Linked DNA regions of Homo sapiens: region 2 is linked to region 1. The links come from fine-mapping of genetic effects on gene expression. A gene starts in region 1. The other region holds a variant in brackets. All regions are shown on one strand. Distances are from middle to middle.

Region 1 (5,375 bases):
TTCCTGTGTTAGTTTGCTGAAGATAATGGCTTCCAGCTCCATCCATGTCCCTGCAAAGTACATGATCTCATTATTTTTTATGGATGCATAGTATTCCATGGTGTATATGTATCACATTTTCTTTGTCCAGTCTATAATGGGCCTTTGGGTTGATTCTACATCTTTGCCATTGTGAGTAGTGCTGCAGTGAACATATGTGTGCATGTATCTTCATAAGACAATAATTTGTATTTCTTTGGGTGTATACTCAGTAATGGTATTGCTGGGTCAAATGATATTTCTGGTTCTAGGTCTTTGAGTAATTGTCACACTGTCTTCCACAGTAGTTGAACTAATTTACATTCCCATCAATGTGTGAAAACGTTCCTATTTGTCTGCAGCCTCTCTAGCATCTGTTGTTTCTTGACTTTTTATAACAGCCATTCTGACTTGCGTGAGATGGTATTTCATTGGCTTTGATTTGCATCTCTCTAATGATCTATGATGTTGAGCTTTTTTCATATGTTTGTTGGCCACATAAATGTCTTCCTTTGAGAAGTGTCTGTTCATGTCCTTTGTCCGCTTTTTAATGGGATTGTCTTTTCTTGTAAATTTAAAACAGAAATTTTTACAGGTGACAAAACAACCTGGAACGTTTGTTACCTGTCCAAAGGTAAATTGTGGACCCAGGGTCAAATTCCAGAGGTCCTGTACTTTGCAGTTCTCTGTCTTAGAAGTGCTGCTGTTGCCCATGAAGTAGTGCAAATTAGGAAAAGAAGACACTTTGGGCTACACAATTAAAAAGGTTTTTTCCTCTGACTTAGGGAACAGGCTTGCCAAGCAGAGAGCAGGCTGGACTTTAGACCTCAAGGCCCCATCCTCCCGCATCCTGTAGGAAACCATCTGTGGCAACCCAGGAGCTCCCCCTTTCTCCATCTCTGTCCCTCTCTTTCACTCCCCACCCCCGCATCCTTCCTTCTCTTCTCCCACTCTCTACTTTATTGGCCTAGACTCCTTTTCCTATGAGTCTTACATGTTCCAACGAGGCTGTCTGGGCGGTCTGGCTTTCAGGAGGCGATTTATTGTTGTGCTACTATCCCTATGAAATTTTGCTTCGCTGGGGCTCAAGGAGATTAAAGACCCCCAAGGCCCACTCAGCACCACCCTGCTGCGGTCCTCTTCCTCGTTGGTGAGGTGTTCGTGCCCACTTTGGGGGCCCATCTGCACCTGTCGCCCTCCCTGCCTTCCGGGCTGCTGCTGCTCGGAGCGTTCAACCACAAGGCTGAAAGCACAGCCTGTTACGGAGTTGTCTTCACAACGCGATAACGTGAACATTTCACATGTCTGAGAGATAACTTTAGTATTTTGTCCAAATTTTTGAAATAATGGAGTTTGGGAAGTATTTTATCTTAGACTCTTAGCATTCCTAGGCTGATCCACTGCCTGGTGAACTCGTGGTTTCCCCGTTGCCTCGGTTACCGTAAAAATAGCAATGATTCTGGACACTTGGCTGGGCTTCTTCCAAATCCACTGAGCCGCGCCTGGGGCCCCAGCCTGCCCCACTGAGAGTCCTAGCTCGGTCCTCGGGCCCGGCCACGCCCGCTGCCGGCCAGCGACCGAGTCGGACCCAATCCGAGGCCCTGCGTTCTTGCCACCCAACACGTAGGCTGATCCTGGCGTGCGCTGCGTGTTCTTTCCTCTTATGTCCTATTCCTTTCTGTTAATAAGAATATGAGCTCAGGTAGACAAAATTAAACAGTCAAGTTTCCAAACACGATGAGGTCACTTTAAGAATTCAAAGGATGTGAGGCACCTGCCCGGGGGAGGTGGGGGGACGTCCCCTCTGCTCCCCCTCCCCGGAAATGCCTGCGTCCAGCAGTGACCTCGGGGATCTGGGGCTGAGCGAGTGGGGGTTCAGAGCCTGCTCGCCCCAGCGTCCTCCAGGCGGTTGGCAGCGCCGCCGGAAGGTGAGGGGGGGCGGGGACGGCACCGGGCAGGAGGTGAGGGCCGGGACCCCGGACGCGAGGTGAGGGCGGGCGCTGGCACCCGGAGAGCGGCCAGGGAGGCGGGCCCGGGCGGGAGTGAGGAGGCGGGGACGGGCGGGGACGAGCGGGGATGCGGGGACGCGGCCAGGGCCGGGGCACCGGGCGGGGGCGGGGGCGGTGCCAGTCGGTGTGGGCGATGAGGTCGGGAGGGGCGGGAACTGGGGAGTTTCGCCAATCGGTGCAGACTCCGGTTCTCCCCAACCCCGGGCCTGGGCAGCTGGGCACTGGGGCGCCGTTCCCCACCCGGCGCGGACTTCGGAACCGGCCCTGGGACTGACTGGCTCTACCACTCGAGCGCGTCTCCGCTGGACCCGGAACCCCGGTCGGTCCATTCCCCGCGAAGATGCGCGCCCTGGCGGCCCTGAGCGCGCCCCCGAACGAGCGGCTCCTTCCCCGGGACCCCGCGGCTACCCGGGACCCCGACGCCGCGCGGCCGGCGCGCAGGAGCGCAGTGGAGAGGCTGGCGGCGGATCGCGCCAAGTATGTGCGGGGTCGGCCGGGGACTGGCCGGGGCGTCGCTTCCGAGGGCAGCGGCCCGGGGGCGATCAAGTGCCCGGGGAACGACCCTGGGCCCCCGGCCCGCGCCCCGGCCCCGGTGGCGCGCAGGGCTATTGCGCGGAAGCCGTTGAGACCGGACTCGCTGATCATCTACCGGCAGAAATGCGAATTCGTGCGAGGATCGGGCGCCGACGGCCCCAGGGCAAGCCTGGTGAAGAAGCTCTTCCAGGGGCCGGGTAAGGACAAGGCGCCGGTGCCCCGGACGGGAGACGAGGGCAAGGCCGGGAACCCGGAGACGGTCCCGACCACTCCTGGCCCCGCGGCGGACCCCGCAATCCCCGAGACCCCAGCCCCAGCCGCGCGGTCCGCGGCGCCCTCCAGTGTCCCGGCCGCGCCCCCTGGGCCAGAGCCGCGGGTGGTGAGGCGTCGGGGGCTGCAGCGCTCACAGTCGGACCTCAGCTCCCGCTATTCCGCTGCCTTGGCCGAGTCTGACACCTTCTTCCAGTACTGCGGCCTGGACCCCGAGGTGGTGGAGGCCCTGGGGAGGGAGAACTTCACCGCGGGGTCGGACTGTGTGACCCTCAAGGTGCGCAGCGTGAGCGTCGCCACCTCCGGCAGCGGCTTCTCCCGGCACAGCGGCGGCGACGACGAGGGGCTGCAGGAGGAGGAGCTGATAGAGCAGGTGCCCAGCACCACTTCGGTCATCGAGAGGAACGCCCGCATCATCAAGTGGCTGTACACCTGTAAGAAGGCCAAGGAGACCCCCAGCCAGGAGCAGAGCCGGACCCGAGGTGTGTGCCCAGAAGGCTGGGGGCGGGGCTGGCCGTGTGCGGGGCTGTGAATCTTGGTGAGTGTGACCGAGCTGGGCGATGGCCAGTTACAGCTGCTTAGAATTGAGTGCGATTTTGAGCTACAGTGTGAAAGGGACCCAAGAGACTGACGCAGAGGCTTGTGAGTTGAGCCCCCGCTGCTGAAGAGCAGAAGGTACCAATCCAGGCACCTGCTGGTCCAGGCCCTTAGGAGTCTGCTGCGTCTGGCTGCCTGGAAAGGCAATTCTGCAAATTAATATGTCCCATTTGGCTTATTATTGTGAAAACAGGAGAAATCCAAAATGCTGCCAGAAAGCAGTTTTACACCCCTAGTATTCTTTCCTGAGCTGAAAACAGCTTGAGAGCCCTAGTTCCTGAGTTCATTGACCTGTGCTGTGGGCGGTCCTGATGTTTGATTGGAGCTGACCAGTCCACCTGCAGCCCTAGGTAGGCGCTGCTGTGTTACTGGAACAGAAAGGAAGACTCCCTGCACTTTCCTGGAGGCCTGTGCTGAAGTGGTGAGAACTTCTCCACAGGATCTTGTAGCACTTTGGCATTCACTTAGCAACAAAGATCTTTATTTGGCTAAATTTTATTTAAATTGTTTTGAGAGCTTCAGGTTTTTAAACTGGGGAAATTGGACTAGATTGTAACTAGAGTCTATAGTTTATTTGCCTCTGATGACACTACAGGAAGTAACCTCCCTTTGGACAACCAGTAGTGCCGGATTGACCTCGAGCTCTTTTTGCTTTTCACTGGGGAACTGAGGAGTGCTGGTCTTCACTGTTACCTGCTCTTCCCTATGGGCGTCTTGGAAAGTAGTGAAGAGAAAGAACCTTTTCAGGGCTGTCTTTGAGAACGAACAATTTAAACTTTGCGACATCTTTTTTTTCCTCTTACCCTTCAATGACAACTTGCTATAAGTAAATTTTAAAAATCATGAGATGAAATTATTTTCTGCCATTGTGATAAACTAAGTGAAGATGCATGGCAGCCTGTAGAGTTTGGGGGAGGCTGCCCAAGAGATGTTTGCACAGGGCTCACCTATGTTTGACAGCTAAAAATATCTCCAATAATTTCTCTGGCTATGACTTTAGTACAGACATGAAAATTAATGAGAAGAAGATAATTCATTCTTTTTCTTGAACTCAGAAGGCTCAGGACTTAAGTTCTTCCTTATAATTTATAGAAGATTTGTGTTTTCCACTAGCCTAAGTTCCCAACAAATATATATAGGCAAAGTTCTAAAAAGCAAACAAACATTAATTTGTAGTTTTCACAAATTGTCTTTTGGATCTGAGATGAATGAATGCTGGCAAGGGTATTTCCATGATGGCACCATGTGTAGGGCAGGAGCTTTGGAGAGTGGCCAGGTCCGTGGAGGGACAGTGTCTGGTGGATAGAGCACTAAACCAGAATTAAGGGCCTGTCTTATGTTAGCAAATGATTCCTGCACTATAGACCAGGCGTCCTTTGTCCATAAAAAGAAGGGAGATAGGCGGATGGTTTTCAACCTCTACATTTTCTAGTCTGTGTAGTAATAATCTGTGTTGCATGACTGAAACCCAGAAATGGAAAACAAACAAAAAAAAGTTGTCTATTGAAGTACGTGAGAAGTAAATTTATGAATAAGCTCCCTCCAGGTAGCCATAGCATGTGCAGGCAGTAGGTAGACTTGGTGGTATAAATAGTGGGGAGGTAATAATGTGGCATACAAATGAAACCAAAGTAAAACCTGACAACATAAAAATAAAAGCAGCCTGCTCTGATCCCTCCAGACCCAGGCTGGTTCCCATCTCGAATTAGCCAATGTCAAAAGAGTGACCTGAATGAGAATTTAGTTGACTTCATAGACTAAATCCTAAAGACCTTTTAGGCTTGGACCTATGAAAAATATAAGAAGTTTAGTTAGCTTGTGAGAACTTTCACTTTTATGACAAAGAGAAATAGTTGAAGGAAGAGGGAAAGTGAGAGCAGGTTTGGGAAGGCACTAAGGATGGAGGCAGGAAAAAGGCTCATGGGCTTCTTCCTCCCCTCATGTCTC
Region 2 (5,375 bases), 62 kb before region 1:
TCTGGGACTTAAAAAAACACTATTTCCCTACCACAAATACAAAGTTGGAAATGTTTTAAAATCAGATATCTAGATGTTTTTACCATATAAATTTAAACAGTTAACAATTTGAAAACCTGTCTTTGACTGAGGGAATTAATTTTTTATTTTTATTTTTTAGTGTTTAATACCATTGGGTTCTTTGGGTTAATGCAGACATAATAAATGATTAAGAACAGAAAAGAAACATTTTAAATCTTGGGCCTGCTTTACCAGGTGGTGCCAATTTCTGTAGCACATCAGATATGCTTTCAGGCAACAATAAAAAATTATCAGTTTTGCAATTTCCTAGCAGTTCCAAACTAAGCCTAAATGTCAAGATAGATTAAGATTGGAGAATCTCTCCATATTTGGATAAGTTGACAGTCAATATGTAACTCATTACTTTAAAGTACACACCAATTACATGTGTGTATAATCAGCTTTTTAAACAAACACAGCCTCTACCCTTTCCTCTGATTGTAGGAATTTCTGTTTGTGTTAGATCTTGGCACAGCTAGCATTGGTTTTTGTCAGCTCATAAGTAACCTTTACGTTGAAAAGTTTATACTACTCCTCTGTGGACTCTCTCTAATCAAAAAATAAAATAAAGAAAGAAAGAAAACAAAACAAAACTTCTTAAAATGTCATATGGCCAATCAAATCATCAACCAAACACTTACAATGGTTTCCCTAATAAATTATAGCCAGATGGTTCAATTCACTACTTAACAGGACCATAAACATATCAGCATTATTCAAATACCTTGCAAAGAAAATCAGACAATATACAGTTTATGTTTAGTTCACAGGTTTCTAGTTTGTTTCACTACTCTGTGTTAACACAAAAGCAAAAGACAATAATAAAAGAAACATGTTTGTTTTGCAGAAATAAAATGCTAGATTAAGAGAACTAAGTAGTTCCTTCCTTCCTTCCTTCCTTCCTTCCTCCCTTTCCCCTTCCTTCTTTTTATCAAGTTCTTTCTCCTTTGGCCCTCACTGACTAATATTTATTTGAACTATGAATCAATAATGACATGTAGCACAAGCTGCCTACAGTGCCCAAACACAAAGAAATGGAGTTAACAGTTAGGAGAAGTTTTGCTTTAAAATTCCCTAAAAAGTGTCAAAACAGCTTAGATGGCAAGTATGGGACTGATAGGTTAGTTTATGGAGACACTTTGCTGTCAGTACTAAATGAAATATGATAATACAATTTGTATAAAGAGGTGACTTCCCAATGCAGGGAAAAGGGGAGTGAAAGACTTCCATTGGCCCACATCCCCACCATGGAATTGTGCAATCCTGGCCACAGGAGAGCCTCTCAACCCTCATAACGCCTGAAACTAACACAGGAAGATGCCAAGAGACTGAGGTAGACCTGCTCCGAGGAGGGAGGGTGTGCTGGGTCCTGCACCCTTTCTGAGACCTAAGTGGCTACAACATTGTGCCATTTTCAAACCTAGCCTTTGGCAGACTGGCCGTCCTGGGTGGGACCCAGCAGTGGCAGATCTGAGGTGTTATGGCTGTCACTGCTTAAACTAAGGAGAGGGCTGGAAGCTTTCCCACAGCTGGGAATAACAAGCAAATGAGGCATGAGCCGTAGCTGCTGGTGCTGGGAAGCAAAAGCCACTGGAACACAGACTGGGACACCACTGAGGTACAAGTTGCTGCTGGAATTTGGTCATCGGCTGGGTGGGGACTCCTGCAGACAGGGTAAGGACATGAGCTAGACTCAGGCTACTCTGCCACGGTTGAGGGGCAAGCCCCACCAGAACTGGAGCATGAGAGGAATGTGCATTTTTCATCACAAGCCCACCCAGCCCAGCTTTGCCTCTCTCTCCAAGACAGCACACAATGAGGTCCTGGGGATTGCCCAACCCAATCCACCATTGTGGGCACCTAAGTACTCCTCCTGGTGCCTTGAGGTTGGGCATAAATTCCTGGCTGCTACCACCTCAGCTGGCACCCACTTGCAAGTGCCACCTTAGGCCAGGAGACTGACCCACTCAGCCCATTTTAGTCACCACCACCATTAAGGCACACAGATTGAGAACCACGGAATCATCCTACCACTGCTACTGCCATCAACCACACCACGCCAAGTGCCCAGGAGCCTGAAAACACGTCCAACTGCCTGGCCACTACTGCCACTACCCATGTCTGAGCAAGCCACCTGGAGGCCCAAGTATCAACTTGCCAGTAACTTCCAACACAAGTGCTAGTGCACTCTGCTCTGGCACAAAGATAGGCATGCTCAGCCCACCTCTGCCAGCACTGGGGCTGAAGACTGGCCCACGTGTCCTCTCAATCCCCAGGACAACTTCACTATGGCTTTCATTAATAACCACACTCTAATCCATGAAGGAAATCACAGATGCTACTAACACTGTTTACAGCCAAAGAAATCATATGGAGACTACACTACTGGATGCACCCAGAATCAAAGCCAAAGTGCTCTACCCAACTGATACCAGAGATACATCTTCAGGAAAAAGT[C/G]CTCCCCTATAAAAGCAAATTCAAAAATAGAAGGTGACTATTATGCCAGATGCACAGATATCAACATAAGGACACAGAAAGCAGGAAAAGCAAGGAAATATGACTCCTTCAAAGGAACACAATAATTTTTCAGCATTAGATCTTAATCAGAAAGAACTTACATAACATCCCAGATAAATAATTCAAAATAATGATTTTAAAGAAACTCAGTAAAATACAAGAAAATTCTGAAAAACAATAGAAAGAAATTAGAAAATCAATTCAGAATATAAATGAGAAATTTACACAGAAATAGACATTTTTAAATGAACCAAATAGAAATTCTGGAACTGAAGAATTCATTGAAGGAAATAAAAAAAACACATTTGAAAGCATCAACAATAGATTAGATCAGGTAGAATAAAGAATCTCAGAACTTGAAGACAGATCTTTTTAAATACTCCAATCAGACAATTAAAAAAAAAAAGAGAATACAAAAGAATTAACAAAGCATTCATGACATTTGGGACAACGTAAGACAAATATACAAATTATTGGGATCCGGCTGGGCGCGGTGGCTCAGGCCTGTAATCCCAGCACTTTGAGAAGCTGAGGGGGTGGATCACCTGAGGTCAGGAGTTCATGACCAGCCTGGCCAACATGGTGAAACCCTGTCTCTACTAAAAATACAAAAATTATCCAGGAGTGGTGGCACACACCTGTAGTTCCAGCTACTGGGGAGGCTGAGGCATGAAAATAGCTTGAACCCAGTAGGCAGAGGTCACAGTGAGCTGAGAATGTGCCACTGCACTCCAGTCTGGGCGATAGAGTGAGACTCCATCTCAAAAACAAAGATTAATAACAAATTATTTGGATCCCTGAGGGTGAAGAAACAAACAAAAGGTTTAAAAACCTATATAATGAAATAATAGATAAAACTGTCCAAGTCGAGCAACAGATTTAGATATTCAGAAGCAGGAGGCTTAGCGATCCCCAGGAAGATAAGTGCAAAAAGGTCTTCTCCGTGGCACATTATGTTCAGACAATCTAACATCAAACATAAAGAGTGAATCCTAAAAACAGGAAGATAAAGACATCTAGTCACCTATAACGGAAACCTCATCAGAATAACAGTGGATTTTTCAATCAAAAGAGAATAGGATGACATATTCAAGTGCTGAAAGAAAAATACTGCCAGTCAAGAATACTATATTCATCAAATTATCCTTTATAAATGAAGGAGAACTAAAGTCATTCCCAGACAAGCAAATGCTGTGGAAATGTGTTTCCACTAGAATGGCCCTACAAGATATGCTGAAGGGAGTTGTAAACTAGAAAGTGAAACAACATTTACCCTAATGAAAACACATGAAAGTATAAAACTCACCAGTAAAGTAATTCACACAAAGGAGGAAGAGAAAAGACTCAAATGGTACCAGTACAGATATCCACCAAACCATGACGATAATCAATAAGAGAAAAAAAAGAAACAAATAACATATAAAACAGCCAGAAAACAATTAGCAATATGATGGAAACAAAGCCTAAGATATCAATAATAACCTTGAACATAAATGAATTAAATTATCTACTTAAAAGATTAAAAAAAGGCTGAATGGATTAAAAAGCATGATCCAATTTTGTGCTGCTTACAAGAAACTCACTTCATCAGTAAAGACACATAAAGACTGAAAATAAAGAGATGGAAAAAGATATTCCACACAAGTGGAAACCAAAAGCAAGTAGAAATAGCTAAGTTTACGAGGGCTTGCCTGTCGTGTACATGTCTCTGTGACTCCCAGGAGGGGAAGGGCTGCTCAGTTCAAGGTGTTCTGTTTGGTAGAGCATGTGTCCTCTGACAACCATGTCTCTGGACTTTTCAGACACTCTTGGGGATGGCACTCCACACACAATGAAGATGCAGGGGCCGGGGAACCCCAGCACTCGGTACCCTTTGTCCAAGATTAAAATCGGCCTGTGGGATGTAGTGAGAAGGCAGGTTGCATGGGTGTAACTGATGTATCTTTTCCTTAACGTTATTATAATAATGGGTAATTTCTCAATAAAGCATTCTTTTTGGAGAAAAAAAGAAATAGCTAAGTTTATATGAGATAAAACAGACTTTAAAGGTAGAACAGTTAAAAAAAAAGACAAAGAAGGTCATTATATAATGAAAAAGAGATTAATCCAGCAATAAGATATAACAATTCTAAATATATATGTTCTTAACACTGGAACACCCAAATTTGCAAAGCAAATATTACTAGATCTAAAGAGAGAGATAGAGTGAAATAAAATAATCATGGAAGACTTCAATATCCCATTCTCAACAATAGACAGAGTATGTAGAAAAAAAATCAACAAAGACACATTGGATTTAAACTGTACTTTAGACCAAATGAACCTAACAGACATTTACAGAACATTTTACCTAACAACTGCAGAATATACATTCTTTCCATCAGCACATGGAAACTTCTCCACAATAGACTATATTCTAGGCCACAAAACAAGTCTCAACAAATTTTTAAAACTCAAAATTAAATCAAGTGTTTTCTCAGACCACAAGAGACTAAAACTAGAAATAAATACCAAGAGGACCTTTGGAAACTATACAAATACATGGAAATTCAACAACATGTTCCTGAACGGCTATTGGGTCAGTGAAGAAATTCAGATGAAAATCAAACATGTTTTGAAACAAATGAAAGTGAAAATACAACATAGCAAACCTTGTTGGATAAAGGAAAAGTAATGTTAAAAGGGACATTTATATCAATAAATTCTTATATCAAAAAAGGAGAAATATTACAAATTAACAATCTAACAATTCACCTCAAGGAACTCAAAAAGCAAGAGCAAACCAAACCAAAAATTAG

The links.
Region 2: its variant is fine-mapped to the expression of FAM110C in whole blood (INTERVAL, PIP 0.98).

The regions. Positions count from the first base shown.
Region 1 is chr2:43,378-48,752 of GRCh38, reverse strand. It overlaps FAM110C (family with sequence similarity 110 member C), which reads left to right and starts at 2,248. Exons shown (of 2, transcript NM_001077710.3): 1 at 2,248-3,313. The coding sequence starts at 2,368.
Region 2 is chr2:105,285-110,659 of GRCh38, reverse strand. No RefSeq gene overlaps it. Among named protein-coding and RNA genes, the nearest start is that of FAM110C, 61 kb to the right of the region's middle. The variant C/G (reference allele first, on the strand shown) is at 2,518.